Linked DNA regions of Homo sapiens. The protein of the gene in region 1 binds, or shares a complex with, the protein of each later gene. Each region holds a gene or a part of one and is shown in the gene's direction. Other genes may lie near its edges. The genes, in order: CNOT6L, CNOT11 and CNOT2.

What was found.
Region 2: CNOT6L (region 1) and CNOT11 share a complex: the UniProt entries of both Homo sapiens proteins name them as parts of the CCR4-NOT complex.
Region 3: CNOT6L (region 1) and CNOT2 share a complex: the UniProt entries of both Homo sapiens proteins name them as parts of the CCR4-NOT complex.

The regions. Positions count from the first base shown.
Region 1 is NC_000004.12:77,739,278-77,746,443, reverse strand, and holds part of CNOT6L (CCR4-NOT transcription complex subunit 6-like), read left to right. Parts: intron 1-1,568; coding exon 1,569-1,726; intron 1,727-4,124; coding exon of another isoform or gene 4,125-4,148; coding exon 4,149-4,303; intron 4,304-6,240; coding exon of another isoform or gene 6,241-6,336; intron 6,337-7,166. UniProt on the Homo sapiens protein: Has 3'-5' poly(A) exoribonuclease activity for synthetic poly(A) RNA substrate.
Region 2 is NC_000002.12:101,255,886-101,262,885, forward strand, and holds part of CNOT11 (CCR4-NOT transcription complex subunit 11), read left to right. Parts: intron 1-1,905; coding exon 1,906-2,070; intron 2,071-2,929; exon of another isoform or gene 2,930-4,156; intron 4,157-4,463; exon of another isoform or gene 4,464-5,987; intron 5,988-6,653; coding exon 6,654-6,806; intron 6,807-7,000. UniProt on the Homo sapiens protein: Component of the CCR4-NOT complex which is one of the major cellular mRNA deadenylases and is linked to various cellular processes including bulk mRNA degradation, miRNA-mediated repression, translational repression during translational initiation and general transcription regulation.
Region 3 is NC_000012.12:70,238,887-70,246,569, forward strand, and holds the start of CNOT2 (CCR4-NOT transcription complex subunit 2), read left to right. Parts: upstream 1-4,546; 5' UTR 4,547-4,594; intron 4,595-4,854; exon of another isoform or gene 4,855-5,436; intron 5,437-7,683. UniProt on the Homo sapiens protein: Component of the CCR4-NOT complex which is one of the major cellular mRNA deadenylases and is linked to various cellular processes including bulk mRNA degradation, miRNA-mediated repression, translational repression during translational initiation and general transcription regulation.

The DNA.
Region 1 (7,166 bases):
GATGCATAGAGGGATGTGTATAATACTTTGTGGTGGCTAAGGGTGATTTATTGCTTAAAAACATGATAAACTATATGGAAATCAAGCCTAGATAATGAAAAAGGTCCCAGATAGAAACAGAGTATAAGAGATGAGTGGTAATAACACTTAGGTAGTTTTTACTTCTGTTTAAAAATTGCTGGTTCATTCTCAGGCACTGGCAGGGATATAAAGAGTTTTGGCTATATTATAAAAATTGCAATCTCTGATCTTTTTAATGAAATCTCAGTTTACAAAGTCTTAGGAAAAAACTGAATGAAGCAAATGGCAGTCTGCCTCTTTCGCCTTACTTCCAAATGACATTTCAAATACTGAGAAGCATAGTAAGGTAAATTCAGGGTGCTTACTTCACAGTGTAGTGGCTTGGAAATGATGCTGGGTCATTTCCAAGATAAATACTCAGAAAGTACAAAAGTCAACTCAAATTGAAATTTAGCTCCCAGTGTACAAAATGGTCACCAGTCAGACCCCCCAGGGGACTGAACTGAGTTTCTCTTAATACCTTTTCCATCATCTGAAACAGAACCAACTTCAATCAAGTGTCACTTCACTTTGAATTCCTCACGTCTTATTTAAATAAGTGATTCTCAACCATGTCTGTTCATTATAATCACCTGGGATGCTGGGATCCTTTTTAAAAATACGAATAGCTAGACTCTTAATATTTCAACTTAATTAGTCTGGAGTCAGACCCTTACTTCAGCATTTTTCTTTATAAGGTCTACAAAGTGATTCTACTAGGCAGCCAAGATGGAGAATTACTGATAAAAATCAGGGCTTTTCAGACTTTAACATGCAAGTGCATATGAATCACCTGGAGATTTTGTTAAATTGCACATCCTGTCCAAAAGAGGTGTTTATGGGGCCACAGATTCTGCATTTCTAAATTCCCAGGTGATTGATTACTGATGCTGCTGGTCTTCACAGCACAGTTTTGAGTAGCAAGGATGCAAACCATCTTCTACTATTAGTTTGCTCACAGTCTTTTTATAGTTAAAGGACATTTAAAAATGAGCATTTTATTTCAGAAATGAACATTTGATTGACAAAAACGATTCTCTTACAACTAAATTTTGTTAGTCCATACTCTTCTGCTTCAAAGTAATGATAGCAGTAGGAGGCACAAAAAATACTTAGATATTTTGTTAATAAGAGGTAATGAGATTAGAGTTCTTTAATTAAAATGCAACTACAGTTTACTTTTGTTCCACTCATTTAAAGAAGCTTTTCTCAAAGTTATAAGCAAAAAATTAGCAGATTTAAAATTTAAATTTTTTATTAAAATAAATTTCCTTAAAACTCTCAAATATAAGCTGTTAGTCTAATTCTAGACTTAATAAAATAAATTTTGTATGATAGACTCCAATGATGTTTTAGTAGATTAGCAATCTTTATCTTGCCTAGGCATTTTACAATGATGATATGTGGCGTATGTGTGTGTGCTTGTGCAGGTGTACACATGATATTGCTTTAGAAAAAGTTGCCTAATTTTCTCCCGTTTGTCTGTTGTTTTTTCTCCCACTTCTTAGCATCATTCACGGTTATGTGTTACAATGTGTTATGTGATAAATACGCTACCCGGCAGCTATATGGCTATTGCCCATCCTGGGCATTAAACTGGGAATACAGGAAAAAGGGAATTATGGAAGAAATTGTTAACTGTGACGCAGATATCATTAGTCTTCAGGTAACACCATAGAAATTAAACTGTCTTTAACTTAAAAGGTGAACTTAAACATAAGAGAAGATCTGACCACTGGGAGAGATCCTGTGTTTAGAGCCAAAGCTCAAAAAGAATTGTTTTCTCTCCTCTTAAAAATAATGGACAATTTAAATAAGCATTTAAGACATTTCCATAGTGAAACTATTTTGCTGACTGAATACAACCACCTACTTATATTTATTTACTGTTTTCTTAAGTGGAAATAATCTTACCCGTTCATGTTAATATTCACCTCATGATCATTGGTATTGCTGAAAGAGAAAACCACAGAAGATTGCCAGTCTTTTAGGAATATAAATTTACCTTGTATTGGAGTCTGTTTTTTTTTAAAAAAAAAAGCTTGCCCACAGTTATTCCTTAAACAGACATATTTTAATATATTGTACTATAAATCATGCATATTTGCCTTACCTTACTTTATAAACCATCTCTGAAATTTAGATTCTTCTGTTTTATAGCACTTTATAAATTGAACTTTACTGAAGAAGCAGCATCTTTTCATGAAATGTGTTCTGTTGCTTCAAAATTTAGCTAATGATTAGCCAAAAAGATGTTTGAATAGTTTTTAGTAACTTTTTTCTTAGCAACTTTCAAAACATATTAAGTGCTTAAAGGTTTAAAAATTTTTAATTGACAAATAATTGTATATGTTTATGGGGTACATTGTGATGTTTTGATACATATATATTTTTTTAAATGATCAAATGAGGCTAATTAACATATTCATCAACTCAGAAACTTACTATTTCTTAAAGGTGTTTAAAAATGTTGTGTGTTACAGGCCGGGCATGGTGGCTCACGCCTATAGTCCCAGTACTCTGGGAGGCCGAGGCGGGTGGATCCCTTGGGGTCAAGAGTTTGAGACCAGCCTGGCCAGCGTGGTGAAACCCCATATCTACTAAAAATGCAAAAATTAGCCAGGCAAGGTGGCGTGCACCTGTCATCCCAACTACTTGGGAGCCTGAGGCATGAGAATTGCTTGAACCCAGGAAGCAGAGGTTGCAGTGATCAGAGATTGCACCACTGCACTCCAGCCTGGATGGCAGAGCGAGATTCTGTCTCAAAAAAAAAAAAAAAAAAAAAAAAAAAAAAAAAGTTGTGTGTTACAATTTCACACATTCTTTTCATCATAGCCTGAGAGGAAAAATTATTAAAAATTTTTTTATGTAACAGAGTAGCTTGATAATTTATTTTTAGGTTGCTTGGGAAAAAAGTAAAAATCTTTTAAAATTAAAATAAAATTTCTTCTAAATACTGAGACTAACAGAGAATTGGGGAGAGGAGGCGGCAAACAAAATCAGGCTATTGTAGTTTCTTGTCTACTTCTTGGTTTAGTATTTGTAGTGATAACAGCCTCACACCCTCCTAAATATAGCAGTTTGAAGGATAGAACATAATTTAAGAAAATTGTCTTATTATAAAAGCAATGCTATAATACTATACTGTATTAAAAAGAGATCATTCTAGAGAAGTTGAAAATTTTGAAAAAATATAAAGCATGATGGAGGGAAATACCTAATTTCATGTCATAAGATAGTTGTGTTAAAACTTCTGGAGTATTTTTCTTCTATACATTAAGTAAAATATATTTACAGATACATTTTGATTCTTATTTATTGTACTTAATGGATTTTCCATGTTACTAAAATTCTTCAAAACTCATTAATTATATGAACGTATATTGATGTAGCTTTTCCCATACCATTGGACACATTTAGTTGTTTATGGGTTTTTGCTGTCATAAACTCATGCTGTTAGAAACATCTGCATACATAAATTATCTTCATATTTATTTCATTTAGAAAGACCTGTTAAAATATTTTATGAGTCAAAGAATAAAATAGACTAATAATTATTAAATTAATAGAGGCCATTGGATGATTGCGATTTAGGTACTTAAAAATTTCTTAAAGTAGAATTTTTTGTGGATAGATTTTACGTTTCTCACTCTTGGGTATCATTTCTTTCCACCATAGTTCAGAAGGATATGCAAGTTTTTAAATTACCTTTTTATATATAAATTACTATTCCCTATCACAGAATCTATCATATACCCAACTTGCTTTGTTTAGTTGCCAGTCTTGAGGAAGTAAAGTATAATGGAGTGAACTGTAAATTGGGAATCAAGAGACCTTGGGATGTAGTCCTACTCCTGTTACTATCTGTGTGAGCATGAGAAAATCATGTCACCTTTCTGGTTCTTTCATGTTTAAAAAGCTGCCATTGTCAAGTAGCAGCTGCTAGCAATCAGGTAAGATAGTAAGATAATATTTGCTATGTGAATTATTTTTACTAAGTTACATCTTACTCATAATGCTGAACATTTTTATATCTTAATCAGCATTTTCCCTCTGTCATATAGATGATAACTTTTCTTTCATCTCAGGAAGTGGAAACAGAGCAATACTTCACTCTCTTTCTGCCAGCATTGAAGGAGCGTGGATATGATGGATTTTTTTCTCCAAAGTCACGTGCCAAAATCATGTCTGAGCAGGAGAGAAAGCATGTAGATGGTTGTGCAATATTCTTCAAAACAGAAAAGTAAGTTAAGGAAACAAAGCACAATGGTGTACTTTTATTTATTTAAATGCTTACACTTTAAAATTGTCTTTGGTTTTGCCCTATAAAATCAACAGAAAGCTAGAAAACAAGTATTATGCAACTTAAAACTGTTGTTAATGTTTCATTTCTCAGGCTGTGTATTCGAAATAAGGATATTTATTGTATTATTCCTTATGCTTTTATTACCAAATAACACTGAACATTTTAAGAGATACAGACTTGAATGGTCTCATATTTCAGAACATATTTTCATGAAGTAAAGTATTAGTTTTTGTGTAAAAAAAGAAAGTGATACCTTTTAAGGTTGGCCATAAGTGATCTGGGTTTCTTTTCTGTGATTTTTTTTTAATAATTGATTTTTGAGAATCATTCATTTTAAAATCATTTATTCACTAAATGTATACTGAGCATTTGCTTTGTGATAAGTCCTGTGCTAGACACAACAGACACAAAGATAGTCAAGACATAGTTCCTAATCTCACTGAAAGCTCAAATCCAGTAGGAAAAACTAGGCATATAAGACAATTGCAATATCATATGGTGTAATATAAGATAGAGGTCTGCCTGGGTAGATAAGAGAGGCAGGCACAGAGCATATGGAGGTAGAGAGTTAAAAGGGTTGACTGAGACAGGGCAATGGAAAATGAAACGTGACATCTGATAGAGGTTGAATCCCATGGTTAATAGTTTGGATTTCATACGTTAGGAAATCATCTTACAGGATAAGCATATACATGCTTACAGCTGTTTTCCAGTATTTCCCCATTTTACATCTATTTTACCAAAGCCAATCTGTTTTTATTGATCCAAGCATATTACCAGCATGACATGCTATTTTAAGTAAACAAATTCAATGAATTTGAAAGATATTTGGTCCACTTCCCATTTATCTATGCCTACTTTCCTGTCTTTTCCATGAATTTGTAGTAGAGATATTCTTATTTTGGTTAATAATTAGTACAAAGCCTTGTAGTATTTGAGGTCAGAATATACTAAATTCTTCTAATGGTTTGGTAATTTTTTATGCATTTTAGAATAATTCTATTAAAACTACGTATCTCTTAACTACGGGAATATGTTCTGAGAAATGCATCATTAGGTGATTTTGTTGTTGTGGGAACATCATGAAGTGCACTTACACAAACCTAGATGGTACAGCACTATACACCTAGGCTATAAGGTATAGCCTGTTGTTCCCAGGCTAGAAACCTGTACAGCATGTTACTGTAGTAAATAGACAATTGTAATACAATGGCATTTGAGTCTAAACATATCTAGACGTAAAAAAGGTAATGTATTGTGCTGTGATGTTAAGACACCTACATCATCACTGGGTGATAGGAATTTTTCAGCTCCATTATAGTCTTGTGGGACTACCATCGGCATGTAGTCCCTTGTTGACTGAAATCTTGTTATATGGTATATGACCGTACTTCCAGAGTGTTTGCCATCTGTCAGCCTTTTCGAATTGTTTATATTAGTTGTCTTGTTCAAATTTTAAAGCAACTCTTACAGGCAGCTATACAGCTATTTCCTTGTTTTTAAAGATGAGGAAACCAAGGTACAGACAAGTTCAATAACTAGTTCCAGTTACACAGTCTGATTTCATAGTCCATGCTTTTAACTACTGTAATAAACTGAATCTTTAGCCTTCTTGTTTGAGCTTTTGATATCACTAATACCTCTTATAAGATTACCTCATTTAGAAAAATTGCCCTGAATTTGACATTTGTTTTTGTTTTTAGACAGGGTCTCAGAGTCTTACTCTGTCACCCAGGCTGGAGTGCAGTGGCGATCATGGCTCACTGCAGCCTCAACCTCCCCAGGCTCAGGTGATTCTGTCACCTCAGCACCCTGAGTAGCTGAGACTACACGTGCATGCCACCACACCTAACTAATTTTTGTATTTTTTGTAGAGATGGGGTCTTGCTGTGTTGCCCTAGGCTGGTTTTGAACTCCTGGGTCCAAGCAATCCACCCGCCTCAGCCTCCCACAGTGCTGGGATTACAGACGTAAGCCACCGTGCCTGACGATATTTGTTACCTATGTTCATACACAAATCCCCTTGAAACACCATAGCTTAAAAAAAAAATGCACCAGTAAACTTGAGACATCTAACATCAGGCTCTTTTTCTATTTGCTATAGTTTCTTTCAAGATAATATGGAAGATTTTTATTATTACTCTCACAGTTTTGAGAGGAAAAATCTAAAATTCCTTAACAATTTACTAGAAGTAGTTAAGGCTTTGAAATAACAGTTAGAACTGTTATCTGGGTATTTGCAAATTGATTCTTGAATTATTAAAAATGCTGTGAACTAGTTAAGTAATGAGCACATAGGAAGTACTTAGATGTGTCACCTGTTTTTCTTTTCTTCCTCAACTCTTTTTTCCTGAATAGTAACATGGATCTGGCAACAGATTGAATGTGATACATCAGTATATTGTACCTCTTTTCAACTTCTTTCCTGGAATGACAGGACTATATACCTCCTATAGGTAGAACAAAACCACCTTCTGTCCCAGTACCAGATATTTATCCATGTCTTAGCTGACTATTCAGTGCCAACTATTTGGAATTTAAAGTATTATACCCTGCCTTTATTCTTTCTTCAGACTGGAAATATAGGGCAAAAAAAGACTGTGAGTTTTGAAGCCAGGTGCTTCTTCTATTTATTTAGCTATATAATGTTGAAAGACTTAGCATTTCTGGACCTGTTTCTTCATTTGTATATTCTTATCTTGTAAGATCATTTTTGTAGAGGTTACAAAACTAACAAAGATAACTGTGGAAGAGTAGTCAACACTGTACTTACTCTCAGTCTCTTTCTTCTGTAATCAGA
Region 2 (7,000 bases), on another chromosome or scaffold:
CCAGCACTTTGGGAGGCCAAGGCAGGCAGATCACTTGAGGCCAGGAGTTGGAAGCCAGCCTGGCCAACATGACGAAACCCCATCTCTACCAAAAAATACAAAAATTAGCCCGGCATGATGGTGCACTCCTGTAATCCCAGCTACTCAGGAGTCTGAGGCAGGAGAATTGCTTGAACCTGGGAGGCGGAGGCTGTAGTGAGCTGAGATCGCGCCACTGCACTCCAGCCTGAGCAACAGAGTGAGACTGCCTCAAAAAAAAAAAAAATAGTGTAGAAGTTGAGGGATTTTGTGCAACCGGGGTGTAGGGTACATGGATGGGAGAGAAGGTCAAGAAGTGAGATTAGGAAGGTGTGGTGGGACCAGATTTTGAAGGGTCTTGTAATGGTGTAGAAATCTGGGTTTAATTCTGTGTACACAGGTTAAGTAATGTGATCAGATTTGTACTCTAGAGATATAACTAAATGGTAAGAGGAAGTATGGACTATGGGTGGTGGGTGAGCAGGGGTCAAAACTGGGAGCTGGGGAAGTCAGTAGAGGGGGCAGGAGTAGTCCCAGCAAGAGAGGCGTGGGGACTACATCTGAGGGAATGCAGCCTGGTGACATTTCTGCAGTGGGAGAGATGAGGCTTCATGAGCAATTAAACATGGGACAAAAGGGAAGGAACATTCAGCCTTGTGGGAATTTGTAGCTGCATTGTGTGTTGAATCAGGTAGTGTATTTGGATAGCTGCTGGTTGCTCTTCTATTTATTCAACTTCTACACAGTGGAAACAGAGAAGAAAGAAAAGCATTTCCGAGCACTATAGTGTTGTCTGTTTTTGTTTGCATATATAAGCTTTAGCCTTTGCAGGAATTGAGGCACTTTAGAAAATGCAGTTATTGGGCCAGGCGTGGTGGCTCACGCCTGTAATCCCAGCACTTTGGGAGGCCGAGGTGGGTGGATCTCGAGGTCAGGAGATCAAGACCATCCTGGCTAACACGGTGAAACCCTGTCTTTACTAAAAAGTACAAAAAATTACCTGGGCGTGGTGGCGGGCGCCTGTAGTCCCAGCTACTCGGGAGCCAGAGGCAGGAGAATGGCGTGAACCCAGGAGGCAGAGCTTGCAGTGAGCCGAGATTGCACCACTGCACTCCAGCCTGGGCGACAGAGCGAGATTCCATCTCAAAAAAAAAAAGAAAAGAAAATGAAGTTACTAATGTGAGAGTTAAAGAGGAAAGAAACACCAGGCGGGGCACGGTGACTCATGCCTGTAATCCCAGCACTTTGGGAGGCTGAGGCGAGTGGATCACCTGAGGTCAGGAGTTCAAGACCAGCCTGGCCAACATGGTGAAACCCCGACTCGACTAAAAATACAAACATTAGCTGGGCATGGTGGCAGGTGCCTGTAATCCCAGCTACTTGGGAGGCTGAGGCAGGAGAATCTCTTGAACCCGGGAGGTGGAGGTTGCAGTGAGCCAAGATCATGCCATCACACTGCAGCCTGGGAGACAAGAGTGAGACTTCATCTCAAAAAAAAAAAAAAAGCCACAAAACGCAGCTTGGCAGTCAAAGACAGATTTTCTTTAGTTAGAACCTGAGAAGCACTCCTGGCCGATGTTTTAACTAAAGAAAACCTGTCTTTGACTGCCAGGCTGCGTTTTGTGTTTCTTTCCTCTTTCTTTAACTCTTACAGTTAACAAGTACAAAAACCTTAAGTTTCATTTGTAGGGCCACAGATCATAGAATTTCAAATGACATATTACATAGTTTGTAAATGTATATATTTGGTTGACTGAAACTTAATCATAATTTAGTTCTTAAAACTATGTGGCTTGAAGTGGCAAGTAGCAAGTACTGATTTTACCAGATTCAAGTTGATTTTTAAAAGTAACCATTGGAGAAATCGTTATACATTTTTGTTTGCAGGATTTTTACCTCCTATAACTCCACCAGAAAAGTTTTTTCTTTCCCAGCTGATGCTGGCACCCCCACGGGAACTCTTCAAAAAGACGCCTCGCCAGATTGCACTGATGGACGTTGGAAACATGGGCCAGTCTGTGGACATTAGTGGGCTTCAGTTAGCCTTGGCCGGTAAGGAGGAATCAGTGTTTTGGGCATTTCTGTGTGGTAATATTAGGCCTCTCTTGTTGAGGACTCTACTAAAATGATGTTTTTTGTAACTGCTAAAAGGTTAGTATCATCCATTTTAAAAAGTAGTTTTAGTACTGGATCTTAAATGGAAGTCTTGGCTGGGCACGGTGGCTCACACCTGTAATCCCAGCACTTTGGGAGGCTGAGGTGGGCAGATCATTTGAGGTCAGGAGTTTGAGACTAGCCTGGCCAGCATGGTGAAACCCTGTCTCTACTAAATATACAAAAAATTAGCCAGACATGGTGGTGCAGCACGCCTGTAATCCCAGCTACTCAGGAGGCTGAGACAGGAGAATAGCTTGAACCCGGGAGGTGGAGGTTGCAGTGAGCTGAGAACAAACCACTGCACTCCAGCCTGGGCTACAGTGAGACTCCATCTCAATAAATAAATAAATAAATAAATAAATAAATAAATAAATAAATGGAACTCTTTAAATTTTTGGATGCTAATAGCATGTAAATTCATTTGGAGTTTTCACTTGAATTGATTGCTTTTTCTGTTTTAGAAGAAAGCTGGATAAAATTTAGTGGGTTTTTTTTTAAGTTTTGATTGGAAGACTTACTATTTGTTAAAATGTCAATACTACCCAAAACAATCAACAGATTTGGTGCAATTCCTGTCAAAATTCCAACAGTGTTTTTTGCAGAAATAGAAAAATCCGGCCAGTCACAGTGGCTCACACCTGTAATTGGGAGGCTGAGGCACAAGAATCACTTGAACCTGGGAGCTGGAGGTTGCAGTGAGCTGAGATTGTGCAACTGCACTTCAGCCTGGGTGACAGGGCGAGAGTCTGTCTCAAAAAAAAAAAAAAAAAGAAAAATCCATCTTTAAACCAAAGAAAGGCTGGCATAGTAGCTCATGCCTGTAATCTTTGGGAGAGGCCAAAGTGGGAGGATCGTTTGAGGGCAGGAGTTCAAGACTAGCCTGGGCAACATAAGGAAACTTTGTCTCTGCAAATAATTAAAAACTTAGCCGGGCGTGGTGGTGCATGCCTGTGGTCTCAATTACTTGGGAGGCTTAAGTGGGAGAATCACTTGAGCCTGGGAGATCGAGGCTGCAGTGAGCTGTGATTGCGCCACTGCACTCCAGCCTGCACAATATCGTGAGACCTGTCTCGGGATGCTGAATAGCCAAAACCCAACGTTCTCTTGGCATCCTTGTTGAAAATCATTTGCCCATATATGCAAGGGTTTATTTCTGGGCTTTCTATTCCATTCTATTTGTCTATATGTCTGTCTTTCTGCCAGTACCACACTGTTTTGATTACTGTAGCTTTGTACTAAGTTTTGAAATCGGGAGGTATGAGACTTTCAACTTTGTTCTCGTTCAGGATTGTTCTGGCACATTCTGTGTTAAACCTGTAAGCAAATGAATGAGTGCTCTTGAAGTAAACAGTGTGTCCTGACAGAAAATAATAGGAGAAGGAGAACTGGTGGTCAGAGAGAGGCTCTCTGAGTTCTGAAGGAGTAGAGGAGGCACTTTGGGCTTGCCTGCTGTCAGCATTCATTTTCTCACTTGAGAGCAACTCAACAGGGAAATTGTAATATGTAGCTGGGTTTGTGAACCCTTGACTTTGTAATTAAGTAAGCTGAAGTATTTTGACAATGCCCCATCCTTCTTAGACTTCATAAACCTGTGACATTTGGCTTCTGATATAAGGTGACATGTTGCAGTAAACAGCTTTTCCTTTGCAACATTGTGAACCTTTAAACTATTGGGTATTAACAATATAACAATGGGGCCAGGCACAATGGCGCATACCTATAATCCCAGCAGTTTGGGAGGCCAAGGCATGAGAATCACTTGAGCCCAGGAGTTTAAAACCAGCCTGGGCAACATAGGGAGACCCTGTCTCTACAAAAGTAATTAAAAAAATAAAAATTACCTGGGTATGGTGGTGTGTGCACTTGTGGTCCCGGCTACCCAGGAGGCTGACATAAGAGGATCACTTGATCCTGAGAGGTCAACGCTACAATAAGCCATGATTGTACTACTGCACTCCAGCCTGGGCAACAGAGTGAGACCCTGTTACAAAAGCAGAGACAAGAACAATGTAACAATGGTTATGTTCTGAAACCAAAAGAAATCTTTTTAAGACTTTTTAAGGTTGTACTAATAAGTACAAAAGTACTAGCCACTAGTGCCAGATATAATTTAATAGAAATAAAATGATTACTTTTATTTATTCCTGACAAACACCAAAGATACTTTGAAAACTGGATACAGAAGTGATGTATTCTGATGGTTCTAGCTTAGTATTTATTATAATATTTATTTATAGTATTTAAATAGTAATTTTTTTTATCATAATAAAGTGAGAATCACATCTGACCTTCCTTTTAACTTGGGATGCCTTGAGTAGCCGTAAGAAAGTTGTGAAGTATATCACGTGGAGGAAGGATCACATGTCTAGAGTAAGGGCTGAGAAGCCTGGCCGAGTGGCTAAGCTTGCTGCCTGCCGTCCTCTACCCAGATTGCAGATGTCCGGATCCATTCCTCTTCACAAGTGTAAAGAAAAAGCAAGCATGCCTCCACTCTGGAGCTAGCCACCCAGATCTTCTCTCTGGAGGTCTAAAATTCAGATGTCTTCCAGTGGCATCCGTGGACCAAAGGTGTATTTTTGGATGATGCAGTTTGTGTTTTCTTAACTTTAAAAAAACAAGTAGACAAGTTAAACATAAGTGACTACAAGGGGTGAAGTTTTACCCTAACAATGAGTTTTCATTTCAGAGGTTTTGTTTTTCTTTATGATTTATTCCTGACAAACACCTACCACTTACTAGTTTACCAAACAGCTGGCCAATTTATCTTTTTTTTTTTTTCACATTTTGGTTGATAATATGTTATCTAACTTTTTGTACTTCAACAATCTGAGATTTTTTTAAATGGCATTACAGGATAATTTTAGTGAGCATTTCTCCTAGTAAGTGGATGAGAAAAGATGCTATATGTCTAAGGCATCTTTTCATATGTCTCTGGCCATTTTTCCATTGGGTTGATGGTCTTTTATTGATTTGTATAGTTCTTTAATCAGGAATTTAGCCCCGTGTTTTTAAAATTACACAATCTGAAGTGAAACATGCATTCACTTTTTAAAGGAATTATAATTAAGTGAACCAGGAGCAACCTGCCATCCAAGTTAAGAAAGAGAATATTTTCAGGGCCTACAGGCTCCCTGTTTCTCCCAGTGGCTGCCTCATCACTAACCTGATTTTTGTGATAATCATCCTCAATTTGCTTCCCTCCTGTGCCTGCCTATAGTTTCACTTTGCATGCCCTTGAACTTTATACATGTGGAATTGTACTGCATTTATTCTCTTGTGCCTTCCTTCTGTTGGGGGTTGACAGATGAGTCCATGCTGATGGCGTGTAACTGCAGTGGCTGCCCTTCATTGCTGCTGTGGTACCTTCACACTGTGGAGTACCAAGTTCTGTGTCCATTCTGTTGTTGATGGACATAATACTGCTGTGAACATTCTTGCACATTATTCTGGGGCGCGTGTGAAAGTGTGTCTCCTAGATGGAAAGAAATGCACATGTAAACATTATAAAGAAACATCAAATTATTTTCCAAAGTTGCTTTGCCATTTTTCACTCCTGTAGCACCATGCAAGTTACCTTACATCCTCTTCAGCATTTGGTAATGTCAAGTTTATACATTTTTGCCAATCTGGTGGGTATGTTATAGTATCTTGTGTTTTAACTGGATTTTCCCTAGTTCCTAATGGGATTAAATATCTTTTCAGATTTTTTTGGCCATTCAAGCTTTTTAAACAAAATCCTTATTAAAGTTACTAGTCCATTTTTTCCTGTTGGTTTCTTTCTTTCTTTTTTTTTTTTTTTTTTTTGAGATGGAGTCTCGCTCTGTCGCCCAGGCTGGAGTGCAGTGGCGCGATCTTGGCTCACTGCAAGCTCCGCCTCCCGGGTTCATGCCATTCTCCTGCCTCAGCCTCTCGAGTAGCTGGGACTACAGGCACCTGCCACCATGCCCGGCTAATTTTTTGTATTTTTTTAGTAGAGACAGGGTTTCACCGTGTTAGCCAGGATGGTCTCGATCTCCTGACCTCGTGATCTGCCTGCCTCGGCCTCCCAAAGTGCTGGAATTACAGGCATGAGCCACTGCGCCTGGTGGGTTCTTTCTTTTTTTAAAACATTGATTTAAAAATATATGTACAGTAAGTCATCACTTAACATCACTGACGGGTTGTTGGAAACTGCAGATTTAAGTGAAGTGATGTACAGCAGGTCCTTGAATAACACTGTTTCATCAACATTGTTTTATTATAACATTGATAAAAATAGTTGTTTTGTTACACGTCACTTCACTTAGTGGCAGATTCCAAGAACCTTTCAACAACGCTAAGTGAGGACCTGCTATACGTACAGACATACACACATTTTCTCTCTCTCTCTGAATCTGGCCCTTTGTTTTTCTCTGTTACAGATAGCTTGCCTCAGTTGGTAGCTTGTCTTTTCTCTCTCCTCATGATGTCCATAATTTTAAAATGTCTCCTATTTCCAGAACGCCAATCTGAATTGCCAACGCAAAGCAAAGCGAGCTTCCCCAGTATTCTCAGTGACCCAGACCCGGATTCTTCTAATTCTGGATTTGACAGCTCAGTTGCCTCTCAGATCACAGAAGCTTTAGTCAGCGGACCAAAGCCACCTATTGAAAGTAGGTACATATAAATTAATTTATACTCTTTGTTTTATTCTGTCAGCAGGATCCTCTAGGACTTTTCAGTTTTTGAGACATCATTTTATTTTTATTATGACTTAAATTGTAATTTAGTGTGAATCTTTCTAGTGTAGTGAGTGTCTAGAACATAGTAGAGATGTTCAGTGACAGTTAATTTCTTCTTTAAGAAA
Region 3 (7,683 bases), on another chromosome or scaffold:
GTGCAGTGGCATGATCTCAGCTCACCGCAACCTCCGCCTTCCGGGTTCAAGCGATTCTCCTGCCTCAGCCTCCAAGTAGCTGGGACTACAGGCGTGCACCACCACACCTAGCTAATTTGTTTGTATTTAGTAGAGACGGGGTTTCACCATGTTGGCCAGGCTGGTCTCAAACTCCTGGCCTCAGGTGATCCACCCGCCTTGGCCTCCCAAAGTGCTGGGATTACAGGCATGAGCCACTGCACCCAGCCTGCTTATGACACATTTCTAAAAGAATCGCTGGGTCAAATGCACATGGCTCAAGGCTTTTGATACATATTGCCAAACTGCACTCTAGAAAAGTGCTGCCAACATACACTCTCAGCAATATAAGCAGCCCTGTTTCTCTGAATCCTTGCCAGTATTATCAAGAAATAACCACTTGTTAAAATAGTGCCTGAAGACTAAATTAATGTTTAACATGTTTTGTCACTCATAAGTTGGGCTTACTATTAAACTTTTAACTGTTATAGTATTACCATTCAAAGCTTACACATATTTAAGATGAAGAAACTGAGGTCTAGTAAATTATAATTCAGACCCCTTTTAGTGTGAATTTTAGCCCTGGATATACTGCAGTGCAGTCTTTTTTTTTTTAACTTGTACTAGCCTTACAGATTTCCCAGAAAAAGGTAGACATCTTCTTTATTAAGTTGGAGGTCAGGAATATCCTATTAGTTTAGTACTGTTTTTCCTGTTTCCTAGATTGGATTTTACAAATTTTGTGTTAAGGATATCTGTTGACATTTACTCATTTATTATTTAAAAAGTCTAGCTAATCTTGGATAAGAATTTTGTTGATTCATTCACTCACTAATTTAACAGCATTTATCTAATGCCTACCATGTGTGAAGGATAAAGTAGTGGAAAAAAACAGGTGTAGTTTATATTTTTGTAGGGTGAAGGGAGGTAGAAAATAAACAGTGAATAAACAAGATAATGATAAATTATAAATGCTATTAAGAAAATAGAGGGGCACGTGATTGACAGAGAATAAATGGGAACGTGAGCTATTTTAGATACGGTGGCCAGGGAAGGCCTGTCAGAGATATTTGGGTTAACCTGAAGGAAGAGAATGAGTCAGCCATATCCAAGACAGAAGACCACATCCCAGGCAGAAAAAAAATAAATAAATAAAAAATAAAAAGCAAGTGCAAAGGCCCTGAGACAGAGTATCAGGTAAGATTAAATTCAGTTGAGAACAAGAGACTCCAAAATAGTGGCTTTAATAATATAGACATTTACGACTGCAGGGCTAGCATGGTGCTCTGATCCATAAAGTTCTCACAGACCCTGGTTTCCACCAGTTTAGTTTTGCCATCCCTAGAATGAGAGAACTTGCATGAGGCACAAATTGGCAGCTACAGTTCTAAGCCATCACATCTATATTCCACGGTACAGGATAAAGGAAAAGCCGCATTGAAGGTGTGCACCAACTATCTTTTAAGGATGGTTTTACAAGTGTGCCACATGATATACTGCTTACATCCCATCAGCCAGCACTATTACATGGCTACAAGGAAGGCTGCAAAATATAGTCTTTGTTCTGGGTAGCCATGTATCCATGTCTATTACTATGAAAAAAATGGAGGAATTTTTGGGGACAACTAACAGACTCTGCTACAGACTAGAAAAAGCACAGCCCACGACAGAAAGGAGGCAGTAAGAAGGGTGAGAACAACTTCCTGTGCTGCTTCCTGGGAAGATGGAGAAGTGGGCAGGAGCCAGATTATGCAGTCTTGAAGGCTATGGTAAGGAATTCCGATTTCATTCTGTGTGCATAAGGAAGCTATTGGAGGGTTTTAAACAAGGGAGTGACATAACCTAATAACATTTTTTAAGTGATTGCTTTGGTTGGTATATAGAGAATGGTTTAAATGGGAAAATATTCATGAGGGTACAGATAGAAAGTGATAGCAACTAGTGTGGTTATTGCTGTGGTCCAGCAACAGATGATGGTGGCTCCCAAGGGTTGTACCAGTGGAAGTGATAAGTAGCTAAATTCAGAATGTATTTGTCAGGAAGAACTGATGGTACTGTCTGATGAGTTGTATGAGTGTGAAGAATCAGAAAATTCCAAGTTTTATGCCTGAGCAAATAAGTGAATGGTGGTACTATTTATGAAAATCAGGAATTCTAAAGGAGCAGCAGATTTAGGGAATGAACAAAGGGGATTCAAATGTTGTTTCAGACACATTAGAGAAGCCTGTCCTTTTTATCCCTTGCCATGGCAAAATTTTCAATACCATCCATATTTTTCTAAAAATGGGTGGCCTCCTTCTTCTACAAGTTATACACAAACTCATTCTTCCCTTAATAGGGTATTTTTTTTCCCTCAACGTCTGTAATTTTTAAATAAAGTGTACAGAGAATTTAACATAATACATATTTTGGAAATATACAAAACATGTGCCTATTAGTAAGGACTACTTTTCAGGTAAAAGTAAGAAAATCTAGTAAGATAGTTAAAAGAAACCAAACTACCAAATGGGCAAACTTAATCAACATTACCAATAAAGATGAACTTTTTGATGCAACAGGACAATTTAAAAAATATACCATCTATTGGTAAGAACTCTTACTATAAGAATTCTTACTATACAAGCCTTTAACAAATGCTAGCTCATTAAATACCTAGAGTACCCTCTAAGGTAGGTATTAAAAATTTTTTAACAAATTTATAATAGATTTGGCACAAATAATAGGACAATTAAAGGCTTGTTCTTCAACCCGGCTTAAAGTGAATTCATCCTAAACAAATAGGTGTTCAGTGAGAGTCAAAGTAAGTAGTATCAAATATTGAAAGTAATAGTATCAGTGTATTTTCTCCTAACACTCCTAACCCACACATTTATTATGAAAATGTTTGTTGTTCTATCTCTTCCAGTAAAATACTCAAGGTAATAAAACTCTCATATCAGACTTACACCCTCTGGAAGTCATTCCATAGAGGTATATTCAATCTTTTAACACACCATCTTATGGTTGAAGATGTTAACATGAGAAGGAGGAGAAAGCAGGAAGAGGAAGGGACTATTTGCAGAAGACGGGGAGAAAGAAAGGAAAGACACTAGTATGTGTTGTTCCTCCTCGAATTTTCCTGAAGTGAAAAAAAAACAGTGAAGTAGAGTGTTTGATGAAATGAATAACCAAGCAAAACATTTTCTACCTACACCAGTACCACTAGGAGTTGAAATAAATTCACACAATGTCTGCTGATATGTCAAAACACCTTACCTTCAAAAACATGACAGTTACCTTTTATTTTATAGTATGCTTGTGTTTCTTCCTATTTCTTGCTTTTGACCTTCAATGATAAATGTAAACTGGATTACAGTGATTCTTTTGTAAGTAAAAGGTGACTTTTTAAAAGAAACAACCAATGGAAATAGAAATTTTATTTACTTCAAATTAACTGTACTTTACTCAAATAGAAAAGAATAATTTTCACATTATGAAGCTACACAATTCCAAAATACACATGCTGAGGCTCTTTTTAAGTCCGAATTGTCTAGTAATTACAAAAAAGTGAAGAGTTTACAGATATACAAGGAAATAAAGGCGAATTATTGCAAAGAAAACAAGTTTAATTTCACTTTGAATGACAACGATTTTTCTGGAAAGCAGATACTTCACTCCTTTAAGTTTCCACCCAAGCCACAATAATTTCAAACGGTCTTGCGGATGACCCAGCTGGTCACTCTTGTTTATGTGGGGACTGGAGGTAATGAGAGCCAAAAAAAGTGCTATAAACCTAATTTGGCTAGAGCAAGTTCACACGACACGACCGTGCTTTAAAAACTTGCTCTCCATTATGTACTTCCTTCCATCAGGTTGGGGAAAAAAAAATGGTGGGGATGGTGAGTAAACACACCAGTGGTTTCATCAGAGGGGAACTCACTACTCAGGAGGTGACGGTGACGTGGTGCCGGTCCCTGAAGTACGCGCACAAGCTCCGGAGGTTGCGGGAGCTGAGGGAGGAAACAGGGACACGATCAGATTCGCTCCAGGTGGCGGGAGTGAGGAGGGGAGGAGTGACGAGGCGGACGTGCGGGGGCGGGGGTGTCCAACACAAACACAAACACAAACACGAACACGAACACGCTCAGCGTCCCCGGGGAGGGCGGACTGAAGCCACCTCACCATTCATCGCCCCTGGACCCCGCAGTCCCCCTCGGACTCAGGGCCAGAGCCTTCTGCGAAGCAACCTAGCCCCAGGGAAACGGTAGCGGCCGCAGAAGCCCCGCTCTCTGTAACGGCCGCGGAGGAGCAGCAAGCCTCCCTGTGAGTCGGTGGGAGACAAGACGGAGCGGCGGTAAGGGCGGTAGGGAAGTGAAGCGCCTCTCTCCACCTTGTTAGAAGCGCGCTGAAAGCGGCCTGCCTACCCACCCCATCGCTGCCGTTTTGCAGTCGTCGCTCCCACCTTCCGCTGCCGCCTGGAGGGAAGCCGGAGCGACGGGGGTCACGGCGGCGGTCAGAGGGTAAAGGTCTTGCTCCCAGCAGCCTCCGCGGTGGATACGTCGCCATCTTGGATCCGCGGGACAAGAAAATTCATGCGGTGAGTTTTTGGTAAATTTTCGGAAGTCTGGCAGCGGGGCGCGCGGCGGGGGCGGCAGATTCGGGGCCCCCGCAAGGCGGGGGAATGCCCCGGGGCCGGTCCGGTCGCGCCCAGGGTCCGCCGGTAGCGTCCCGGCCCACCGCTTCCCGTTGCTTTTGTCTCGGCTCCAATCGAGAGACGGAGAGCGGAGCGGGCGGGGAGGGGGGTGGCGGCGGTGGAGGGAGGGAGGGGGTGTGTATGGGGGTGGTGGTGGACCGGACGTAAAGCGTCGCTGTACTCGGGCCGCTGCAGCAGCAGCAGCTCCAGATCCTAGGCCCGGTCCCATCCGCGAGTGGTGGGGCTTCCCCAGACTCCACTCCCCTAGGCTCCCGCCAGCGCGGAGGAGCCGCTGCCGCCGCGCTGCTTCCTGGGGGAGAAGAGAAGGCGGCAGCGGCCGTGGCCGTGGCCGACGAGCTCGAGCCCGCTTTAGACGGCTCTGCCGCCTTCCCGGCAGCTGGTGCTGTCTGTGGCTTCTTACCTTCTCTCAATACACGTATATCATCTGCCAGTTATGTGTATTTCTGTTAGTGTGTTTGCAAGTGTCAGATGGGAGACACTGGACTGGCTAACGGGTGTCAGGATCCTGCAGGCCCTGGGATACCGAAGGCTGTGCATGGTGGAGGGAGAAGGAATGCAACTGCGATGCCGCCTCTGCCACCGCACCAGGAAGGTGAAGCTTCCGTAGTGTCGTAGACTGAGTCCGGATGATCCTGGGGCGGCGGAGGAACCACAGACGCTTCTGTCTGTGAAGTTGCAAGTCCTGGGTTTCTACTTCCGCAGGGGCCTCTCCACCTTTTGCTGTCGTAGGTCTCGCTTAAAAGTTTAACAGAAGAAAAGAGTAGGGTTAAAAGAGGCCTTTGTAGTTCTTCATTGAAGCACTGTTGTCTGTCCGGGTGAAAGCTGATAACTCTTGGTAACTGTGGTCCTTAGCAAAAGAGAATTGGAGTTTTCTTTTATACAAAGTATTTCCAAGGTTTTAGACCTTATATTTATTCCAGGCCTGTAGGTACGGTATTACTACCACAAAAGTCTTACATTAAGGGTACCACCCTCTCAGAGGGAACCTAAACATCAACTTCCTTCGAATCCTTGGAGACATCTTCACTTTTCAACATCCGGAAGACTGAGTGCAACATATTTTGTTTCATTTTCATAAAAGTCTTGGTCAGAGAATCCCACTCCTTTTAAAATCGTTTGGGCAATTCCTCATAATTAAGTACACTGCTTTGAACCCTTAGTTCTTGGCGAAATGGTAAAAAGTACTCAGTTAAAATCAGTTCACGAGGGAGGCCAACTTGAATTTAAGGTTCAAAGTTGAACATATTTAGTGTCATGCTTAATATTAGGAATTTTTAGAGCTCGGAATCATAAGTGTGACTGTTGATTTCCCTTTTGAAGCAATATAAATGGAAAGAATAAAGTATGGGGTGAGGGATGAGATAGAAATTTTAAAGTATCCATTTACATGCAAGGTTGATGTTGAGTTTGGGAATGCTTGGCATAATTGACAACAGTTCTTTCCAAACGTCAATGAATAAATCTCACAATTTTGTAAGGTAACTATTGCAGATTGAAAGGGTTAAGAATCATAGTTGGCTGAAATGGTTAAGTGTCTATATTCACATCCCAGTTCATTGAAATGTTTTATAATGGACCAAGATAATTAGTAAGCTCTGTATGTTGAATTTGTTTAGTTTGTAGTTCTATTATAATGTTAAATCTAAAGAAAAAAATACAAAATACACTTAAAGACAAAACATGTTCCACTCTACTCACTTATTTCTTGACTTTGTAAGATCCTTACTGTAAAAAAGGTACTTTTCTCTCATATTTTCTGAGAGCTTGAATTGTAATAATTTTTGTGAATACTTTGTATTTTAGAGAGGAAGTGAGAAACTGCTGAAGTTTTTTTTGCATCTTGATTAGTGCTTTATCAATACAAATAAGTTAATGTAAACATTTGTTGGCAGGAATCTTTTTCTAAGTATACAATGTAGAGATATCTGTAACCTAATCTGATCTCAGGGAATGAGAATTGCCTGTTTAACCAAGCAACAAATACAGCCTATACAATTTTTCAATTTCTATAATACTTTAATTTACATGGTGGAAAAATGAGGGCAAAATGCTTGTGTATGAGTGATTTATATCCCCAAGTACCTGCTCTTGAAGATAAAACTCAGATTGTGGCTTATCTTCTGATGCTGGGCAAAAAACAAAAACAAAAAAATTCAGAATGATACAACTTCCCATATACCTCCCTACAAGAACTAATTACCTTTGTTTTTGCTTTATAACTTTGGATGTTGCACTTTTTGATTTTTCAGAGATGCTTTACAGTTATTGTAATCTGAAAATTATTTGTTCAAAAGTAAATAAAATTTTCAGGTGTATGAATAGATTTTATTAGAAGTGATTCTAACCCAGTTCTCATTTGTATTCCTTTAGTAGATACTGGTGTTAAAAGTACCTGTATTTTGAAAGACCATTACAGAATTTTTTACAACCTGTATAAGTTATAGTTTTATCTTTTCTAGTGACAGACTTACTTCATAAGATTTTCTGATAATATGAATAAAATGTATGCTTCACATGTATATATGAAATAATGAGTAAGCATTAATAGACCAATGAAAAGAACTTAGCTTACAATTTATTTTCTTGCTCTTTAAAAGCAGTGGTAAATAATAGCTTTTTTTTGTTGTTAAAATTTGTAACTGTAGAAAGTTCATTCTGTTGGGATCACATATTTGAAGGCAAACTAACAATGCCATGTGCTTGCTTGAATAGGCATTTGAGGACAGGTTATTTTCCTGAGATTTCAGGAAAATATACCACCAAACATTTATGATGTTATTTGTTACCTGGATCTGTAGTGGATTTTGTAACACAAAGAGGCAGAATATCCAGGGTACCAGGTAGGGCAGTTTAGGGGCAGAGTTAATATGAGGTGTACTGTAATGTTTGAGTGGAATTACATACAGTGTTAATCAAGAGATCTAGTGCTATGGTAGAACTTATTCTGCTTGATGATACAGGTGACTGTTCTT